2 separate regions of the Homo sapiens genome follow, and region 2 is linked to region 1. Evidence: fine-mapped expression QTL. Tissue or cell type: whole blood. Region 1 holds a variant in brackets; the other region holds the start of a gene. All regions are shown on one strand. Distances are from middle to middle.

Region 1 (11,220 bases):
ATGAGCCACTATGACTGGCTGGATTAATCAAGTAATTTTTTTATGATTCCATTTTATCTCTTTTGTAGGCTTATTAGCTATAGCTCTTTGTTTTATTATTTTATTTATTTATTTATTTGAGAGTTTCACTCTTGTCACCCAAGCTGGAGAGCAGTGGCACGACCTAGGCTCACTACAACCTCTGCCGCCTGGGTTCAACTGATTCCCCTGCCTCACTCAGCCTCCAGAGTAGCTGGGATTATAGGCGCCTGCCACCATGCCCAGCTAATTTGTTTTAATAGAGATAGGGTTTCACCATGTTGGCCAGGCTGGTCTTGAACTCCTGACCTCAAGTGATCCACCCTCCTCAGCCTTCCAAAGTGCTGGGATGACAGGTGTAAGCCACCGCGCCCAGCTATTTTATTTTTTTTGAGACAGAGTCTCACTCTGTTGCCCAGGCTGGAATGCAGTGGCACGATATCGGCTTAGTGCAATCTCTGCCTCCCGGGTTCAAGTGATTTTCCTGCCTCAGCCTCCTGAGTAGCTGGGACTACAGGTGCCCGACACCAAGCCCGACTAATTTTTGTATTTTTAGTAGAGATGGGGTTTCGCCATGTTGGCCAGGCTGGTCTCAAACTCCTGACCTAAGGTGATCCACCCGCCTCGGCCTCCCAAAGTGCTGGGATTACAGGCGTGAGCCACCGCGCCTCACCTGCCTTGTTTTTTTAATGGTCACTGTAGAGTTTATAGTCCACATCTTTAACTTCTCGCAGTCTACATTCAAGTGCTACTGCACTCCACACTCCAGTGTGGGTGACAGAGCGAGACTCTGTCTCAAAAAAAAAAAAAAAAAAAAAAAAAAAAAAACCTAGCTGGGCGTGGTAGCGCACACCTATAGTCTCACCTACTCGGGAGGCTGAGTCACGAGAATTGCTTGAACCCAGGAGGTGGAGGTTGCAGAGAGCTGAGATCACACCACTGCACCCCAGCCTGGGAGACAGAGCGAGACTCCATCTCAAAAAATTAAAAAAAATTTTTGCCTAGTGCTACACATAGGAATGTGCAGGTGCACACGCATACACCTGCATACACACACATGTGCACAGGTACACATAGGAGTGAGTAAAACCAGTGAAATTGGAAGATTAAGGTCTTAGAATTGAACTAATGTCAATGTCCTGTTTTGATGTTGTATTACAGTTATATAAGATGTTAGCATCAGGTAAGTGGATGAAGGGCAAACAAGACCACCATGTACTTTTTTTTTTTTTTTGAGATGGAGTCTTGCTGTGTCACCCAGGCTGGAGTGCAGTGGCGAAATCTTGGCTCATCGCAACCTCTACCTCCTGGGTTCAAGCGATTCTTCTGCCTCAGCCTTCCAAGTAGCTGGGATTATAGGCACCTGCCACCACGCCCAGCTAAGTTTTGTATTTTTAGTAGAGACGGGTTTTGCCATGTTGGCCAAGCTGGTCTCGAACTCCTGATCTCGTGATCTGCCCTCCTTGACCTCCCAAAGTGCTGGGATTACAGGCATGAGCCACCACACCCAGCCTCTCTTTTTGTAACTTCTTATGAATCTATAATCTCTTAGAAATAAAAATAATCAGTCAGGTGCCATCGCTCATACCTGTAATCTCAGTACTTTGGGAGGCCGAGGTGGGTGGATCATTTGAAGTCAAGACTTTGAGACCAGCCTAGCCAACATGGCAAAACGCTGTCTCTGCTAAAAATACAAAAATTAGCTGGGCGTGGTGTCGGGCGTGGTGGCTCACGCCTGTAATCCCAGCACTTTGAGGCCCAGGTGGGCAGATCACCTGATGAGGTCAGGAGTTCGAGACCAGCCTGACCAACAGGGTGAAACACCATCTCTACTAAAAATACAAAAATTAGCTGGGTGTGGTGGTGGGTGCCTGTAATCCCAGCTACTTGGGAGGCTGAGGCAGGAGAATCACTTGAATCCAGGAGGCTGAGGTTGCAGTGAGCTGAGGCTGTGCCATTGCACTCCAGCCTGGGCAACAAGAGTGAAACTATCTCAGAAAGAAAAAAAAAAAAGCCCACAAGTATTTGGAAAGTAAATAACCCAGAAGTCGAAGAAGAAATCAAAAGAGAAAGTATAAACTACATAAAACTCAATGAAAAAAAATAACATATCAAAATACATGACATGAGATAAAGTAATGCTTAGAAAGACATTGATAGATTTTTAAATGCTTAATTAGAAAAGAGGAAAAGGAGGACTGGGGAGACGGTGGTCAAAGGATACAAATTTCAGTTAGGAGGAGTAAGTTCAGGAGATCTATTGCACAACATGGTGACTACAGTTTTGTTTTTTTTTTGTTGTTTGTTTGAGATGGAGTCTCTCTCTGTTGCCCAGGCTGGAGTGCAATGGTGCTACCTCGGCTCACTGCAACCTCTGCCTCCCGGGTTCAAACCATTCTCCTGCCTCAGCCTCCTGAGTAACTGGGATTACAGGCGAGCACCACCATGCCCGGCTAATTTTTATATTTTTAGTAGAGATGGGGTTTCACCATGTTGGCCAGGCTGGTCTTAAACTCCTGACCTCAAGTGATCCGCCCACCTTGGCCTCCCACAGTGCTGGGATTACACGCATAAGCCACTGCGCCTGACCAACTACAGTTAATAACAATGTATTGTATACTTGAAAATTTCGAAGAGAGTAGTTCTATTTCTTTATTTTATTGTTATTATTGTTTTTTTCTGAGACAGTGTCTTGCTCTGTCGCCCAGGTTGGAGTGCAGTAATGCAATCTCGGCTCACTGCAAGCTCCGCCTCCCGGTTTCACTCCATTCTCCTGCCTCAGCCTCCCGAGTAGCTGGGACTACAGGCGCCTGCCACTACGCCCAGCTAATTTTTTGTATTTTTAGTAGAGACGAGGTTTCACCGTGTTAGCCAGGATGGTCTCGATCTCCTGATCTCGTGATCCGCCCGCCTCGGCCTCCCAAAGTGCTGGGATTACAGGCGTGAGCCACCATGCCCGGCCTATTTTATTTTTTTTGAGGCGGAGTTTCGCCCTTGTTGCCCAGGCTGGAGTGCAGTGGCACCATCTTGGCTCACCATCTTTGCTCACCGCAACCTCTGCCTCCCGGGTTCAAGCGATTCTCCTGACTCAGCCTTCCAAGTAGCTGTGATTATAGGCATGCGCCACCACGCCCGGCTAATTTTTGTATTTTTAGTAAAGATGGGGTTTCACTGTGTTAGCCAGGATGGTCTCCATCTCCTGACCTCGTGATCCGCCCACCTCAGCCACCTCCCAAAGTGCTGGGATTACAGGCGTGAGCCATTGTGCCTGGCCAGAACTCTGTCTCAAAAACAAAACAAAACAAAACAAAATTATGCACATGAAAAACATCAGTCACAAAAGACTACGTTATGTATTTCCAAATGTGAAAAGTCCAAAATAGGTAGATTAATAGAGACAGAGAGATTAGTGTCTGCTTAGGGCTAGAAAGTTACTAGGGAGATTGGATATTAACTACAAATGAGTATGAGGTTTCTTTATTTAAAATTTTTTTATTGTGCTGAAATATACATAAAATTTACTATTTTAACTTTTTTTTTTTTTTTTTTTTTTTTTTTTGAGATGGAGTCTTGCTCTGTCTCTTAGGCTGGAGTGCAGGGGCACGATCTCGGCTCACTTCAACCTCTGCCTCCTGGGCTCAAGTGATTCTCTTGCCTGAGCCTCCTGGAGTAGCTGGGATTATAGATGCGCCACCACGCCTGGCTAAGTTTTGAATTTTTAGTAGAGATGTGGTTTCTCCACGTTGGCCAGGCTGGTCTCGAACTCCTGACCTCACATGATCCGCCCACCTCGGCCTCCCAAAGCGCTGGGATTACAGGTGTGAGCCACCTCACCCGGCCACTTTTTTTTTTTTCTTTTTTAATGAGACAAGGTCTCACCTATCATCTAGGCTACAACGCAGAGGCACAATCACAGCCAACTGCAACCTTGAACACCTGGCTTCAGGCGATCCTCCCACCTCTGTGTCCCAAACTGCTGTGTGAGCCACTGTGCCCAGCCAAAAGCTGTTTTTCAATGGAGGACCAACATCTGAAAAGTACATTGACAAACTGAGGCTCTTATATGTTTAATTCAACGCCTACAGGGCAGTGGCAGTGGCTCACGCCTGTAATCCCAGCACTTTGGGAGGATGAGGCAGGAGGATGGCTTGAGGCCAACCTGGTCAACATAGTGAGACTCTGTCTTTACAAAACAAATAAAATATTAGCTGGGTGTGCTGGCACGAGCCTGTAGTCCCAGCTACTCAGAAGGCTGAGGTGGGAGGATCACTTGGGCTAGGAGGTAGAGGCTGCAGTGAGCTATGATCGTGTCATTGCACTCCAGCCTGGGCAACAGAGCAAAGACCCTGTCTCTAAAAAATAAATAATAAATGTCTATGGACTGCACAATATTGTTGATTCCTCAACTCCTCTCTTGCTCTTTTGCATATTGGCAACATAAAAAGTGTCATTTTCGGGCTGGGCACAGTGGCTCATGCCTGTCATCCCAGCACTTTGGGAGGCTGAGGCGGGTAGATCACTTGAGGTCAGGAGTTGGAGACCAGCCTGGCCAACATGGTGAAGCCCCGTCTCTACTAAAAATACAAAAATTAGCTGGGTATGGTGGTGGTGGAGGGGGGGCACCTGTAATCCCAGCTACTCAGGAGCCTGAGGCAGGAGAATAAATTGCTTGAACCTGGGAGGTGGAGGTTGCAGTGAGCTGAGATCGCGCCATTGCACTCTAGCCTGGGCGACAGAATGAGACTCTGACTGAAAAAAAAAAAAAAAAGAAAATGTCATTTTCAGAGGGCAAAGTGAGGAAGGTGCACCCTCAGGACATTCTTGCCTCAGCCTGGGGAAAGAGAGTTTAAGCAATTCCCCCAGAAAGGCACAGGAACCTCAGCCCAGAGAGGGGCAGCTTCCTGCCTCGGGTCAGGAAGCACAGCCTTGGGCTCCGAGAGTCCCTCGTCTCTACCTCCCCAAGTTCAAATGTGCATGCGTGAAGTTCCAAACCCAGCCCCAGTGCTAACCCCTGGCTGCCTCCTCTTTCTGACTTCTCAGGGAAAAAAAAAAAAACCACATACACACAAAAAATCCCACAAGTCAGGAAACATCCATCACGGGCTGTCCAGCCCAGGCCGGAGGGGCAGGAGTCAGCAGGGAGGTGACCTCAAGGTCTCCGTGGGGACTAGGATCCGGCGGGGCTGGGGGTGAGAGGCTGGAAATTTTCCCACCCCGAGACTTTCCTGCGTCAACCCAGGAGGGCGCCCTGGATGCCGCCAGCCCTGCCCCCAACCTCCTTCCTCTCCTGACAGGGCAGCTTCCCGGCTAAGGATGGATGGGGAGGGTGTGCCAAGATGGAGCCACCAGGACCAGGAATGGACAGGCACTTTGAGATTGACCAGACGAGGGACCCTGGCTCAGAGTGGCGAAGGCCTGGCCTCAGAGCCACACAGCCAGGAGGTGTACATGGGTTGGCGTCGCTCCCAGCACATGCAGCCTCCCTCTACCTCCACTACCCTGCCCAGGAGCTGGAGCCCAGCCCGGCCTTGGGTGTGTGAGAAGCCACTGGCCCGGGGCCCTGCTTCCCCGGTCCTTCCTCCCCACAACACACTCAGGACTCAGCCCTTCCTTGTGTTAAATAGAAACCTCTTTATTCTAAGTATCGAACGTTCCTTAATACATTGGATTGGGGCCAGACCTTGAGGTGAGGGAAAGGGGCGGGGGAGCTGGGATATTTCTGTAGAGACTTCCAGAACGACACTCACCACTCTGGGCTATGGCAGGAGGGGAGGTGCTGGGAACAGGCTTCATGGCCTTGGGAAAATGCTTTGTCTCTTTGGCCTCTGTTTCCCCCTACCTTTTTTTTTTTTTTTTTTTTTTGAGAAAGGGTCTTGCTTTGTTGACCAGGCTGGAGTGCAGTGGCACAGTCATAGCTCACTGCAGCCTCGAACTCCAGTGATCCTCCAGCCTCAGCCTCACCAGTAGCTGGGACTACAGGCACACACCACCGTGCCCAGCTAATTTTTTATTTTTTGTAGAGATAGGGGGCAGGTCTCACTATGTTGCCCAGGCTGGTCTTGAACTCCTGGGCTCAAGCAATCCTCCGGCCTCAGCCTCCCAAAGTGTTGGGATTACAGGCATGAGCCACCGTGCCTGGCGTTTGTTTCCCTTCTGTACAGGGAGTTTGGGGTTGGGTGA[A/G]AAGACATCTAAGGGTCTTTCTATCCCAGGGGTGTGTGGTCCCAGGCAGGGAGTCAGGAGGGGCGCCGTACGGGAGGTTGGCTTGTCAGCAGCATAGATGGGGTCACTAAGGCCGGCGGTTGGGTGACCCTCAGCGCTGGGCCCGAGGTCGCGCTAGAGACGGAGGCCGGGGCCGAGGCAGACAGGCCAAACTGGGCCTGGCCAGCCGGGAGAGGGGGAGGCGGCCCAGGAAGAGAGGGAGGCTGAGACAGAAAGATGGGCGGGGCACAGGGATGTCTGCAAAGAAGGCACGGTCCCGAGGGGGTGACAGGGCTCCCTCCTCAGAGAGTTCCAGGTCCCGGGCCACGGCCAGGATCTCCTGGCGGGCGGCTGTGTTGCGCAGGCCACGGATGTCGAGGAGGGCTGCCACGTGCTTCTGCCTGTGGGGAGAGGAACAGACAGGTGCATGCAGATCCCCAGCTCTAGACACACACCCAACCCAGCCGTGGACCCCACCTGACCCCCTCACCTATCCCAGAAATTGCCTGAGTTCTGGGGCCTCTGTGTCCCCTCCAGAGCCTTCCCTCCAATCAGCTCCCTTGCCCAGGCCCTCACCTCATACCAGCTCCCTCCAGAACTTCACTTCCAACCATCTCCAAATCCCCCTTACAACCAACCCCAGAACCAGCCCTGGGATCTTCCTTTTCACCCCAAGCCTCAGCTCGTGATTAAAATTCACCTTCTCAGCTGGGTGCCGTGGCTCATGCCTGTAATCCCAGCACTTTGGGGGGCCAAGGCAGGCGGATCACCTGAGGTCAGGAGTTCGAGACCAGCCTGGCCAACATGGCGAAACCCTCTCTCTACTAAAAATACATTAAAAAAAAAAAAAAGCTGGGTGTGGTGGCAGGCGCTTGTAATCCTAGCTACTCAGGAGTCTGAGGCAAGAGAATCCCTTAAACCTGGGAGGCAGAGGTTGCAGTGAGCTGAGATCGCGCCACTGCAGTCCAGCCTGGGTGACACAGCGAGACTCCATTTCAAAAGTAAAAAAAAGAAAGAAACCTTGTACCCCACTCCCCCTAAATCCTCAGCCCTAGGTACCTCCTAATCTCAAGCTCAACCCCCTAAACCCAACCCAGCTAGCAAACTCTTAAACTTAGCTACAGATTCAAGTTCTGACTCATGATCCAATATTCAAGTTCAGAAACTCCACATCAGCAAGAATACTGGGACTTCTTGGGACCCCATGGGACTCCAGGAATATGTGCCTTCCCAAGGACATGACCTTATCCCCCAGAATCAGAACTGACCACCCTGAATCAATTCCAGGACCCCCACCCTCAGTGCTGAAACTGAAACCCGCTCATGCCTCACTCCTTGTTTTTCTGGGGTTCTGTTTCTCTGAGTATGTCTGAGAATGTGTCTGCCCAAATAGCACTGCAAGGACTGGCGTTGCTCCGGCAGCCACCACCACTGCCACCACCATCCAGCACTGTCACATGGTGGTGTGGTGTGCTGATCTGGTACACTAGTTTTTTTGTGTGTTTGTTTGTTTGTTTGTTTGTTTTGAGACAGAGTCTTGCTCTGTTGGCCAGGCTGGAGTGCAGTGGCGCGATCTCAGCTCACTGCAACCTCCGCCTCCTGGGCTCAAGCAATTCTCCTGCCTCAGCCTCCCGAGTAGCTGGGATTACAGGAGTGTGCCATCACACCTGGCTAATTTTTGTATTTTTAGTAGAGACGGTGTTTCACCATGTTGGCCAGGCTGGTCTCGAACTCCTGACCTCAGGTGATCCACCTACCTCGGCCTCCCAAAGTGCTGGGATTACAAGCGTGAGCCACCATGCCCGGCCGATCTGGTGTACTAGTTTTAGAGCCAGTCTACTGCCTGGGTTCAAGTTCCACCTTTGCCACTTGCTAGGCGTGATATTTCAATAGCTTTAATTATACCCCTTACTTATAGGCCAAGCGCAGTGGCTCACGCCTGTAATCTCAGCACTTTGGGAGGCAGAGGCAGGCGGATCACCTGAAGTCAGGAGCTCAAGACCAGTGTGGTCAACTTGGTGAAATCCCATCTCTACTAAAAATACAAAAATTAGCCGGGCGTGGTGGCACATGCCTATACTTGGGAGGCTGAGGCACAATAATCTCTTGAACCCGGGAGGCAGAGGTTGCAGTGAGCTGAGATCACTGCACTTCAGCCTGGGCGACAAAGTGAGACTCTGTCTCAAAAAACAAAACAAAACAAACAACAACAAAATACCCCTTATAAAGTTGGCATGGGCTGGGCAACGGTGGCTCACACTTCCCCATTCGTGGGAAGCCGAGGCAGGCAGATCACTTGAGCCCAGAAGTTCGAGACCAGCCTGGGCAACATGGTGAAACCCATCTCTGCAAAAAATACAAAAAATTAGCTGGGCATTGTGGTGCATGCCTGTGGTCCCAGCTACTCAGAAGGCTGAGGTGGGAGGGCTGCTTGAGCCCAGGAGGTCAAGGCTGCAGTGAACCGTGATTGTGCCACTGCACTCCAGCCAGGGAAACAGAGTGAGACCCTGTCTCAAAAAAAAAAGAAAAAAAGTTGGCATGTAAGATGCTTATTTAGGTCTGAAATAAGAACTCATTGAGTGAGAACTGGAATTGTTACTATAGTCATGGATGATGATGATGATGATGATGATGATAAATTTCCCTAATAACCCTATGACGAGAATACTACTATCCCCATGGAACGGATGAGGAAACTGAGGCTCCGAGAAGGTCACCTACAAAGGAAGTGACCTGGCAGGAGTTGAATGCCGCCTGCGCCTGCCGCTGTCCCAGTGCGTGTGCGCCCGTGTGCCCTGCGTGTCCCTGAGTCCCCTGCGGCTCCCCTGCGGGCTGGCCCTTCCTGCCTCCAGGCAGCCCTGCGCCCCCCTGCCCTGGGCTTCCTGTGACCGCCTGTTTGTTTGTGAGCCCTGGTGGCGGTGGCGGCGGAGGCAGCAGCGGCGGCAGGAGAAGGAGGGAAATCTTATTAATAATGCCCTGGTTCCAGCAGGAAACGGCCGTCAGACACGCTCACCGGCTCCCTCCCTCAGGAGGCAGGAAGCACAGGGACGGATGCCAAGGCCGCCAGGAGACCTCGGCCAGGCACGGCGAGCCCTGGCCCAGGCGGGGTGTCTCACCTGATGTCTGGGTAGTCGCGCACCAACACTCCCACCTCCACCTGGATGCTGGGCGTGTCTTCCAGCTGCATGACTTCAGCCAAATGGGGCACCACGGCATCCAGCCACGAGGCCTGGGACTCCTGCAGGGGAGGGAGGGTGCGGGGTCACACCCTCCCAAGATTGACCCTGCCAATTCCTGCCCCTCCTGGCTTGTTATACCATCTCTAAAATGTAGCAGAAACCAGGGGTGGTGGCTCAAGCCTGTAATCCCAGCACTTTGGGAGGAGGCCGAGGCGGGTGGATCACTAGAGGTCAGGACATCGAGACCAACCTGGCCAGTATGGTGAAACCCCATCTCTACTAAAAATACAAAAATTAGCCAGGCGTGGTGGTGCACACCTGTAATCCCAACTACTCAGGAGGCTGAAGCAGGAGAATCACTTGAAATCGAGAGGCAGAGGTTACAGTGAGCGGAGACTGCACCACTGCACTCCAGCCTGGGTGACGGAGCGAGACTCTGTCTCAAAAATAAAGAATAAAAATAAAAATAAAAAATAAAATGTAGCAGAAGACATACTATGGCCACATTTGAGAAAAATCCATAATATAATCTCCTCCCAGTTTTGCAGGTAATTTGGAACTCTGGGAAACATCTCCAAACCTCTTCCACGTCTGCAAAATCTTGCCTTTGCGGGGATGGAGACTGGACAAAGTGTACAAGGAAGCTCCCTGCATTCTTTCTTACATCTGCATGTGAATCTACAATTATCTCAAAAATTTTCCAAAGAAAACATTCCAAGGACTCCGGGCTTGGAACTCCAAGAAGAGCGACTGAATGAGGCCCTTCCAGCCCAGCTGAATACAACTGGGTACAAATAAGATCTGGCGGTTTTTAATTCCAGGGTTTAGAAATGTTAGGATTTCTGTGTTTCTGTTGCATGTAGTTTCTCTGTACGTTCATGGAGTCTTTTTTTTCTTTTTTTTTTGAGACAGAGTCTCACTCTGTCCTCCAGGCTGGAGTGTGGTGGCAGGATCTCGGCTCACTGCAACCTCCGCCTCTTAGTTCAAGCGATTCTCCTGCCTCAACCTCCCAAGTAGCTGGGATTACAGGCGTGAGCCACCACACCCGGATAATTTTGGTAATGCAAGGAGTTTTAACTCTGAGCCAGGCACTGTCCAAAGCACTTAACAGGAATTAACCAATCTGATCCTCAAAACAATGGATAGGGACCATTATTCGCCTTATTTAACAGCCGAGGAAAGCGCCCAGAGGCGAGTTCTCAGAGCAAGAAAGCCAGGTTTTAAGTGCAAAGGGTGTCGGTCAAAGTTACTGGTTGCTATTGACCCGAAGTTGGGTGAGAGTTTCTGTCCTGAGCTCTGCCCCTCTCCCCCTGGCTTTTGGGACCTGAGATTCTCGGAAGCCAAGCCTTGTCCTGGTTTCTGAAACACCCCCAACCGCGTCCCGACACTGACCAGCCGCCGGAACAGCCTCTGCAGTTGCGCCGCGTCCTCCCGGAGCCTGCCGGCCACGCGGCTGCGGGTCCGCGCCGAGCTGCAGCGCAGGCGCCCACGGAGCAGGGGCCGCACGTACTCGACCAGCGCCCGCCGGTGTAGCTCGGCTACCAGCGCCTGGAGGCGGAGGAGGGAAACCCGAGGGGTGTGAGCCATGCCCCACGGACTCCCATCCCGCCAGTCTGAAGGCCACCCCCGCCCCACTCGCCCACATCCACTCCGGGCACCCATGGGCACCCTTCCCGTGCCCACGCCCCAGTCCCCAGCCCCTGAGCTATCCTAGGATGCCTTCCCTGGCCCCCTAATTAGCCCGCGGACAGTCTCTGCCGGTCCCCAAAGGGTGCTCCATCCCAGCCTCTCCCCATTCCCCAAGCTCCACTCTCAGGGGCCCTGA
Region 2 (9,751 bases), 32 kb after region 1:
ATATGGGGACTCAGGCCCTACCATCCACCCAGACGTCCAGGGCAGACTCCTGAGCACCTGCCTACACCCCCTCATCCCCTTCATTTCTCCTGTTTGATTTGTACCCTTGTCATCTCTCCCTCATTCATCTCTTCAGCAAAAACTTATTGGGAAATGTCTAGAATAGGCAAAGCCTAATTTTTTTTTTTTTTTTTTTTGAGACTGGGACTCACCCTGTCACCCAGGCTGGAGTGCAATGGCCCCATCATAGTTCACTGCAGCCTGAAACTCCTGGGCTCAAATGATCCTCGTACCTCAGCCTCCTCAGCAGCTGGGACTACAGGTGTGTACCACCATGCCCACTTAATTAATTAATTAATTTATTTATTTATTTATTGAGACAGGGTCTTGCTATGTTGCCCAGGCTGGTCTCAAACTCCTGGCCTCAAGGGATCTATCCACTTCTGCCTCCCAAAGTGCTGGGATTACAGGTGCAAATCACCTCGCAGGTCTCTAGGCAAATCCTTAGAGACAGAAAGGAGACTGACAATAGGACTGGAGAGAACGGGGAATGGCGAGTGGCTGCTAATGGATGCAGGGTTTCCTTTTGGGGAAAGGAAGACACTCTGGAACTAGATAAAGGTGATGGTTGTACAACACTGTGAATGCATTAAGTGCCACTTAATTGTATGCTTTTAAAATGGCTTAAGGCCAGGCGTGGTCGCTCATGCCTGTAATCCCAGCACTTTGGGAGGTGGAGGCAGGCAGATCACCTGAGGTCAGGAGTTCGAGACCAGCTTGGCCAACATGGTGAAACCCCGTCTCTACTAAAAATAAAAAAAGTAAAAAATTAGCCGGGCGTGGTGGCATGCACCTGTAATCCCAGCTACTCGGGAGGCTGAGGCAGGAGAATTGTTTGAACCCAGGAGGCAGAAGTTGCGGTGAGCTGAGATCACACCACCGCATTCTGGCCTGGGCAATAGAGCAAGACTCAGTCTCAAAAAATAAAATAAAACAAAACAACTTACTAGGTATTAGCCATGGGCCCAGCCCTGTGCAGGCGTTAGGGACACAGCAGTGGCCAGGGCAGCCCCCATCCCTGCCATTACAGCTTCCTGAGTCCTGCCCATTCCATCTCCTAAGCCTCTCTTCAGTCTGCGCTCCCTCCTTTCACTCACTTCCCATAGCCCCTACCCCAAGCGGAACCCTTGCCCACTTCCCTGCCCTGGCCTCCTCCCTGGTCCCCAGCCTCTAGTCTTGGCACCTCCAGTCCGCCTTTGAGGACCTTGAAAAAGCGCAAACCAGGCCGGGTGCAGTGGCTCACGCCTGTAATCCCAGCACTTTGGGAGGCCGAGGCGGGCGGATCACAAGGTCAGGAGATCGAGATCATGGTGAAACCTCGTCTCTACTAAAAATACAAAAAATTAGCTGGGTGCAGTGGCAGGCGCCTGTAGCCCCAGCTACTCGGGAGGCTGAGGCAGGAGAATGGCATGAACGCGGAAGGCGGAGATTGCAGTGAGCTGAGATCGCGCCACTGCACTCCAGCCTGGGCGACAGAGCAAGACTCCATCTCAAAAAAAAAAAAAAAAAAAGAAAAGAAAAAGCACAAACCTGCTCTTCTCCATCTCCTAAGCCTTCCATGGCTCCCTAGTATCTTCAGGACAAAGCTGAGGCCTCTCACCACAGCCTTCATGCTCTGGCAGCTGCACACGTCACTAGTGCTGTCCCGTAGCCTCCTCCTTACCCCAGGAACCTCCAGGTTTCAGCATCTGCTGGTGCTTCTACATAGACGCCTGTTCTCCATGCTCCAGTCAGGACTTCAGGACTCACACTTCAGGACTCAGCCCCATGCCCCCTCCTCCAGGAAGCCCTCTGTGACCCTCAGGCTCCCAGTCCCTGGGTTCCCACACCTCACCTCTGCCTGCTCTGGGTCATCCCTGTCTGGGGACAGATCTGTGTCCCTTACTGGACTGCAAACCTCAGCAGGACAGGGCTGGGGCTGTCTCAGTCACCACTGTGTCCCCAGCTCCCAGCACAGGGCAGACACTCAGGGAATGGGTGCTAAACAGGAAATGAAGGAAGGAAAGTGGCAAGACAGTTCATTCCTTGTGTGGGGAGGAGGAGGGTGAGTCGAGCTGGAAGAGGTCACTAGGGAGCAGGCCACGCAGGGCTTTAAGTTCCTTGATAAGGGACAGGCTTTCTTCCAAGAGCCCTGCAGAGCCACAGATAGGTGCTTTTTAAAACAATGAAATAGTTCAAACATTCGGAAAAGTACAGAAGACAAGCTTAATAAACACTTCTGTGCCTACAATCCTAGCCACAGCTCACACAATCATTTGCTCTCTTAGTTCAGGTTTTTGTTGTTGCTTTTGTCTTTAGAGACAGGATCTCACTCTGTTGCCCAGGCTGGAGTGCAGAGGCGTGATCATGGCTGGCTGCAGCCTTGAACTCCTGGGCTCAAGCGATCCTCCCACCTCAGCCTCCCAAGCAACGGGGACATCCTGCTAATTTTATTGTTTAATTTTTTGTTATAGATGGGGTCTCGCTATATTGCCCATGCTGGTCTGGAACTCCTGCTCCTGGCCTCAAGCAATCCTCCCTCCTCGGCCTCCCAAAGTACTAGAATTACAGGCGTGAGCCACCATCCACTGCCCTGATTTTTGTTTTAAAGAACAAGCCAGGCGCAGTGGCTCACGCCTATAATCCCAGCACTTTGGGAGGCCGAGGAGGGAGGATCACCTGAGGTCAGGAGTTTGAGACAAACCTGGCAAACATGGTGAAACCCTGCCTCTACTAAAAACACAAAAATTAGCTGGGTGTGGTGGCGGGTGCCTGTAGTCCTAGCTACTTGGGAGGTTGAGGCAGGAGAATCACTTGAACCCAGGAGGCGGATGCTGCAGTGAGCCCAGACTGTGCCACTGCACTCCAGCCTAGGCAACAGAGCGAAACTCCATCTCAAAAAAAAAAAAAAAAAAAAAGAATTACAAATGCGTGCAGCCTCCTCCTGCCACCTCTCCTGGTCCCACTCGCTCTGGCCTTCTCCTAAGGAATCCAGCATCCAGAATGAATGTGCTGTTTACCCGTCCAAGTAGATTTTTATCCCATGCTCCATAGACTTGTATCCAGAAATAATATACTGTTCTACATGGTTTCAAACTCTCTATAAATGGTATCATACTATTTGTATCTTGCAACTTGCTTTAAAATTTATTTTTTTGCTCACGTTATGAACTTGTGAGAATTTATCCATGTCTAGCCATACAGCTCCAGTTCATTTAAGTGCTATGTAATATTCCACTATATGAATTGTGTAAAGGGTCAGATGTTCACTTGTTCTTCTATTGCTGGACGTGTAGCTTGTTTGTCACCACGACAGGGTTCTGAGCAGGTCAGGACAGGGTCAGGATTATGCAGACGTGCGGGGGTGGACAGGAGGCCTGGGAAGAGGGTGGTGTGCAAAAGGCCTGGGTTGCCTAGGTTATGAGTAAGAGCACCCCTTTCCATGATGGGGAGGCCCCTTCTTTCTTTCCCTGTTTCAACCCCTGAGCTGCTGCTTCTCAACCCTCCAGTTCCTAGAAACGCTCTCGGACCTCCTTCCGGTCTCCATGGGCCCCCGCCCCCACAGGAGGCAGTCACCATGACGACCCCTTGCCTGGAGCCCCCATGGCTGTGTGCAATAGATACTCCCCCATGCACACACATTATTTGCACACTCATTTCTCTTCTATTTTATTTTATTTTTTCAGATGGAGTCTCGCTCTGTCACCCAGGCTGGAGTGCAATGGCGCGATTTCAGCTCACTGCACCTCCACCTCCAGGGTTCAAGCGATTTCTCCTGCCTCAGCCTCCCAAGTAGCTGGGACTACAGGTGCCCACCACCACGCCTGGCTAATTTTTGTATTTTTAGTACAGATGGGGTTTCACCATATTGGCCAGGCTGGTCTCGAACTCCTGACCTTGTGATCCGCCTGTTTCAGCCTCCCAAAGTGCTGGGATTACAGGTGTGAGCCACCGCACTCTGTCCTTCTCTTTTATTTTTTAGACAGTCTCACTCTGTCACCCAGGTTGGAGTGCAGTGGCATGGTCTCGGCTCACTGCAACCTCTGCTTCCCAGGCTCAAGCAATCCTCCCACCTCAACCTCCCGAGTAGCTGGGAGTACAAGTGCAAGTCACCACACCTGGCTAATTTTTGTATTTTTAGTAGAGATGAGGTTTCGCCCTGTTGCCCAGGTTGGTCAACTCCTGAGTTCAAGCGATCCACCTGCCCCAGCCTCCCAAAGTGCTGGGATTACAGTCATGAGCCACCACACCCAGCCTTGATTTCTCTTTCATCCTCTGAACTGGCATCCACATGCCTCATCCCAAAATGGCTCCATCATCCCCCCTCCACCCCATAACTGTCTCCATCTTCCTCTCAAAATTTCAGGCTCGAATTTCCCTCCAATTGAAGTCAACCTTGCCCGGACTACATCTGACTTTCCCCCACCTGGCTTCAATATCGCCTCCAAACTGGATCCAACATCCCCAAACCTGGCTGCAACATTTTCCCAAAACTGTCTCCGACGTCTTTCCCCTTCCTGGCTCCAACACCCGCCTCTGCAAACTGGTGCTGACATCCTGCCCCCTCCAACCCTCTGTCTGCCTCCCAGTGCCCAGCCCCTGACTCACTTCCGAGGCATCCCTCAAGCCCCCAGCCTCTCAGGCCCGCAGGATGTCTTGGCCACCAGAGCTTCCCTCTTTGAGCCCCTCCTCCTCTTCCTCACTGCCAGCCTTTTCCCCGGAGTCCCTAACCTTCTGCAGCGGCCCTGACCTCGGTTTGCGGAATCCATCACCTCCAACGCTCAGCATCTGTATTAGAGAACGGTCTTTCCATATGGCATGTCCCCAAGCCCAACCCCAACCAGTGCAACCCCAATCTAGTCCTTGACCCCAAACACAATCCTGTCATCAGCCCAGACCACTGCAAGCTCATCCACATCTCCAATCCCAACCTGATCTCGGTCTCTCCTGCTTGATCTCAATCCCTACCTGGTCCCTGTCTCCCATCTCCGAGACCCCATCTCTTGGGATAGAACAAATACCCGATCCTTCCTGGCCTCAGTCTTCCCGCCCAGACTCGCAGGACATTCGACCCAATGTCATCTCATCTCTATTCTCCTTTGGTGGCACCAAGGTTTCTAATGCTCCCTTGCACCCTTTGTGGACCCCGCGAGTCCTCAAATTCTCCCCTGCACCCTCCTCTCATTTTCATCTCCTTTCTGCCTTCTCGCCAGCACCCCTCTGGAGTCAGGCCCCAGATTCTCTCTTTGCCCCCAGCCTCTGCTGGGTTCAAGGTACAGGTTCTCATCAGCTCTGGTCCAGTGCAACTAAGGGCAACTGTTTTCCCAGTTGCCCTGGGGAAGGGGGACCCCTTCCCCCTGTCCCCAGCACACTCACCTCTGTCCTCCTGCCCGTCCTTCTGTTCCCGCTGCTGTCCTGTCCCCAGGCTACTTCAGCCAGGACTGCTGGGAGCTTGGATCTGAGTTGGGGGGGTGCTCGGAGGAGGACAATTTCCTGTCAGGAAACCCCTCCCTCTCTGGGGCCAGGGGCGGGAAGGACTCATTATCTGTCTGCCCTTTTAGGCCAGGCTGCGGTTGGGCTGGGAAGGCCGAGGCCCACAGCTGGGCCCCCACCCTCACCCCCGCTCCAGGCCGGAATCCGCCCACTCCTGCATGCTCTTCACGCCTCCCAAGGTGACAACACCATCCTGGGCGCCCCGGGGAGACACCCCAAGCTGGACGCCAGCCCAGAGCTGCTCTCCAGCATGGGCAAGCCCCGAGGCCTTAGAATGAGAACCGGGGGGCAGGCACGCATCTCTCTAGAGTTCCCTGCCACGGGCTGAAGACCAGGAGGGAAGTTTTGCTGGGCCCAGGGGCTGGGGAGGGGGACCTATGGAGGAGGGCACTGGACATGGCTTTGGAATTGTGGTTCTCTTTGTCTAGAAGCCCCTGTACCCAGGTCTCTGCATGAGGCCCTCCTTTTCATCATCCCAGTTCCAGCCCCACAGTCTCTTCCTCTGTTCTCCACTGTCCCGTCTCACAGAGTCGTCACTCTGCTTTGTCAATTTATTTTTCTTTTTTTTTTTCCTGAGACAGAGTCTTGCTCTGTTGCCCAGGCTGGAGTGCAGTGGCGTAACAATAGCTTACTGCAGCCTGGATCTCCCAGACTCAAGAGATCCTCCCACCTCAGCTTCCTGAGTAGCTGGGACTACAGGCATGCACCACCATGCCCAGCTAATTTTTGTATTTTTTGTAGAGACACGGGTCTCATTAGGTTCTCCAGGCTGGTCTCAAACTCCTGGCCTCAAGCCATCCTCCTGCCTCGGCTTCCCAAAGTGCTGGGATTACAGGCGTAAGCCACTGTGCCCAGCCTGTCAATTTCTTTATTGCACCTTCTACAATCTGAAATTATCAGATGCAACTGGATTCCTTGCAGATAAACTCAGCAAAGCTCACTTTGTTGATCCTGTTCATCTTTATAAGCCTAGCTGCGTGCCTGGCCCTCAGTAGTCAAGATTTAAATGAATTTAAATGAAGCTGAGGGTTGGAGGTGGGTTTGGAGATGGACTTCCTGCTAGAGTTGGGATGCCAAGTGAAGTGAGGGCTGGGGCTGGAGCTGGTGCTGGGTGGGGTTGGGTATGAGAGTCAGGGTTACTTTAAAAGGCTAGGGCCATGTGTGGTGGCTCATGCCTGTAATTCCAGCACTTTGGGAGCCAAGGCAGGGGGATTGCTTGAGCCCAGGAGATCAAGACCAGCCTGATAATATAGCAAGACCCCGTCTCTACAAAAAAAAAAATTTTTTTAATTAGCCAAGTGTGGTGGCACGCTGTAGTCCTAGTTACTAAGGGAGCTGAAGTGGGAGGATCACTTGATCCTGGGAGGTGGAGGCTGCAGTGAGCCATGATCTCGCCACTGCGCTCCAGCCTGGGTGACAGAGAGAGACCCTGTCTCAAAAATTAAGAAAAAAAAAATTTTTTTTAAATAAATAAAACTGGGCTGGTTGCAGTGGCTTATGCCTATAATCCCAGCACTTTGGGAGGCCAAGGTGGGTGGATCGCTTGAGGTCAGAAGTTTGAGACCAGCCTGGCCAAACTGATGAAACCCTGCCTCTACTAAAAACACAAAAATTAGCCAGGTGTGGTGGTGCATACCTGTAATCCCAGCTACTCGGGAGGCTGAGACGGAAGAAATCGATTGAACCCAGGAGGCAGAGGTTGCGGTGAGCCGAGATTGTGCCACTGCACTCTCCGGCCTGTGAGACAGAGTGAGACTCCATCTCAAATAAACAAACAAACAAATAAATAAATAAGATAAACTGTGTTCAAGTGCTCAGGCACAGCCTGAGGGGGATGCGTGATCACTGGCCTAGGCAAAGTCCAGGCTGGGATCAGGGTTGGGGTCAACATTAGGATCGGGGGCTGGGCTTAGGGATCACAGCTCCCTCCTGGATCCAAGGGTTAAGATTCAAAGGTCTGAATGCCCCAGTTGAAGGAATGAATTCACCAGACATAGGTTGTGGAGGAAGGGCTAGCTGGATGACCAGGTCGGGAGGCAGAGGAACAGGCCTTGCCCCCCAGCTCGGCCTCTGCACCGCGGACCCATGGTCAGCAGTGGCCCATCATGTACTGGGATCGTGCAGGATTTCCACCCCGCCTTATTTATTTATTTATTTATTTATTTATTTAGAGACGGAGTCTTGCTCTGTCGCCAGGCTGGAGTGCAGTGGCGTGATCTCTGCTCACTGCAACCTCCGCCTCCTGGGTTCAAGCAATTCTTCTGCCTCAGCCTCCCGAGTAGCTGGGACGCAGGCGCTTGCCACCTGCAAGCGCCCGGCTAATTTTTTGTATTTTTTTTAGTAGAGACAGGTTTTCACTGTGTTAGCCAGGATGATCTCGATCTCCTGACCTCGTGATCTGCCCGCCTCGGCCTCCCAAAGGGCTGGGATTACAGGCGTGAGCCACCGTGCCCGTCCCCCTCCTTTTTAAAAATTATTTTTTTTATTTTGATTTAGAGACAGGGTCTCACTATGTTGCCCAGGCTGGTCTCGAACTCCTGGGCTCAAGTGATCCTCCCGTTCTGGCCTCCCAAAGTACGGGGATTACAGGTGTGAGTCACCGCGTCCAGCCCCCTTTTTAAATTTTATTATTATTTTTTATTGAAATACAATTCACATACATAAGAGTCACCCTTTTCAAACAGAGTCCGGTAGGTTTTAGTATATTCACAAGGTTGCAGCAAGCGTCACCACTATTTAATTCCAGAACATTCTCATCACCCCAAAAAGAAACCTGGTACCCATCAGCAGTCATTTCTCATTCCCCAGCCTCCAACCCCTGGCAACCATTAATCTACTTTCTGTCTATGGATTTGCCAATTCTGAATATTTCATATGAATGGAAGCATACAGTAAGTGGTCTTTTGCGTCTGACTTCTTTCGCTAAACATGCTGTTTTCTTTTTTTCTTTTTTGAGACGGATTCTCACTCTGCCGCCCAGGCTGGAGTGCAGTGGCGCGATCTCAGCTCACTGCCAGCTCCGCTTCCCGGGTTCACGCCATTCTCCTGCCTCAGCCTCCTGAGTAGCTGGGACTACAGGCGCCCGCCACCGCGCCCGGCTAATTTTTTGTATTTTTAGTAGAGACGGGGTTTCACCGTGGTCTCGATCTCCTGACCTCGTGATCCGCCCGCCTCGGCCTCCCAAAGTGCTGGGATTACAGGCGTGAGCCACCGCGCCCGGCCACATGCTGTTTTCAAGGTTCATCCACTTTGCAGCCTCCCTCTCTGTAAGCCTCGGTCCCCCCACATCTGGGAAATGGGGTGGGGACGCTGTTGGGGAAGGGAGGGCAGGGGTGGACCCTGGAGTGTGTGGGGCGCGTGTAGGGAGGTGATCGGCTGCCCCCGTGTGGTGCACGGTAGAACTGCAGCTCTCAGCGCCAATGCAGGGAACGGGTTGGGGGCGCTCAGCCCCTCTAGCCTACCCCCAAGACCCCCACTTTCACCCTGCGGCGTCCCTGGGATCACAGTACGTCTAGAACACTACCCCGGAACTCCACCCTCTCTGCCACTGTCCCTGAGGCTCCTCGGGCCATATTTGCCAAATAGTAATAATAATGTCCCCACATATGAATTTTGAATCTGGTCCCCTGTGAAGCACTTTACTCAAAGATTCTCATTTATTTGTTAGCAGTAACATTAAAATAACAAATAAATATAAACAAATTGACAAATAAAAATAGTAGCAGCCTGAGGTTGCTGCTATTATTTTTCGGAGACAGGAAACCACAGTGGTTGAGAGAGGGTCCAAGTTCTGGAACTTGGGAGCACTTGGATTCAAATTGTAGCCCTGCCACTAATTTGCCGTGTGACCTTCAGCGTGTGACGTTTCTCCCTTCCTTGGGCCTCTGTTTCCTCATCTGCAAATGGGATTGATAAAGATGCTCCCTACCTCTTGGGGTGGCAGAAAGGAGAAACTGCTCAGAGCCTGGCACAAGGGCAACTGCCATGAGTCTGTGTTGCTCATAGTATCAAGCAGTGCTGTGCTTTCACAACCAGCTTTTGGCTGAGTGCAGGGTAGTCCCAGCACTTTAGGAGGCCGAAGTGGGAGGATCGCCTGAGCCTGAGAGTTGGAGATCAGCCTGGGCAATATGGCTACAAAAAATTAGCTGGGCGTGGTGGTGCACACCTGTAGTCCCAGTGACTTGGTGGGGCTGAGCTGGGAGGATTGCTTGAGCCGGGG

The links. PIP is the estimated chance that this variant, and not a neighbour inherited with it, causes the effect.
Region 2: EXOC3L2 starts here. The variant in region 1 is fine-mapped to the expression of EXOC3L2 in whole blood (INTERVAL, PIP above 0.99).

Annotation. Positions count from the first base shown.
Region 1 is chr19:45,206,741-45,217,960 of GRCh38, forward strand. EXOC3L2 (exocyst complex component 3 like 2) reads right to left here. Exons shown (of 12, transcript NM_001382422.1): 10 at 10,788-10,943; 11 at 9,333-9,454; 12 at 5,630-6,617. The coding sequence ends at 6,329. It also overlaps a transcript of BLOC1S3 not described here. Among named protein-coding and RNA genes, the nearest start is that of EXOC3L2, 33 kb to the right of the region's middle. RefSeq lists enhancers at 9,172-9,706, 10,329-11,024, 11,025-11,220. The variant A/G (reference allele first, on the strand shown) is at 6,199.
Region 2 is chr19:45,239,926-45,249,676 of GRCh38, forward strand. It overlaps EXOC3L2 (exocyst complex component 3 like 2), which reads right to left and starts at 5,482. Exons shown (of 12, transcript NM_001382422.1): 1 at 5,416-5,482. RefSeq lists an enhancer at 5,176-6,172.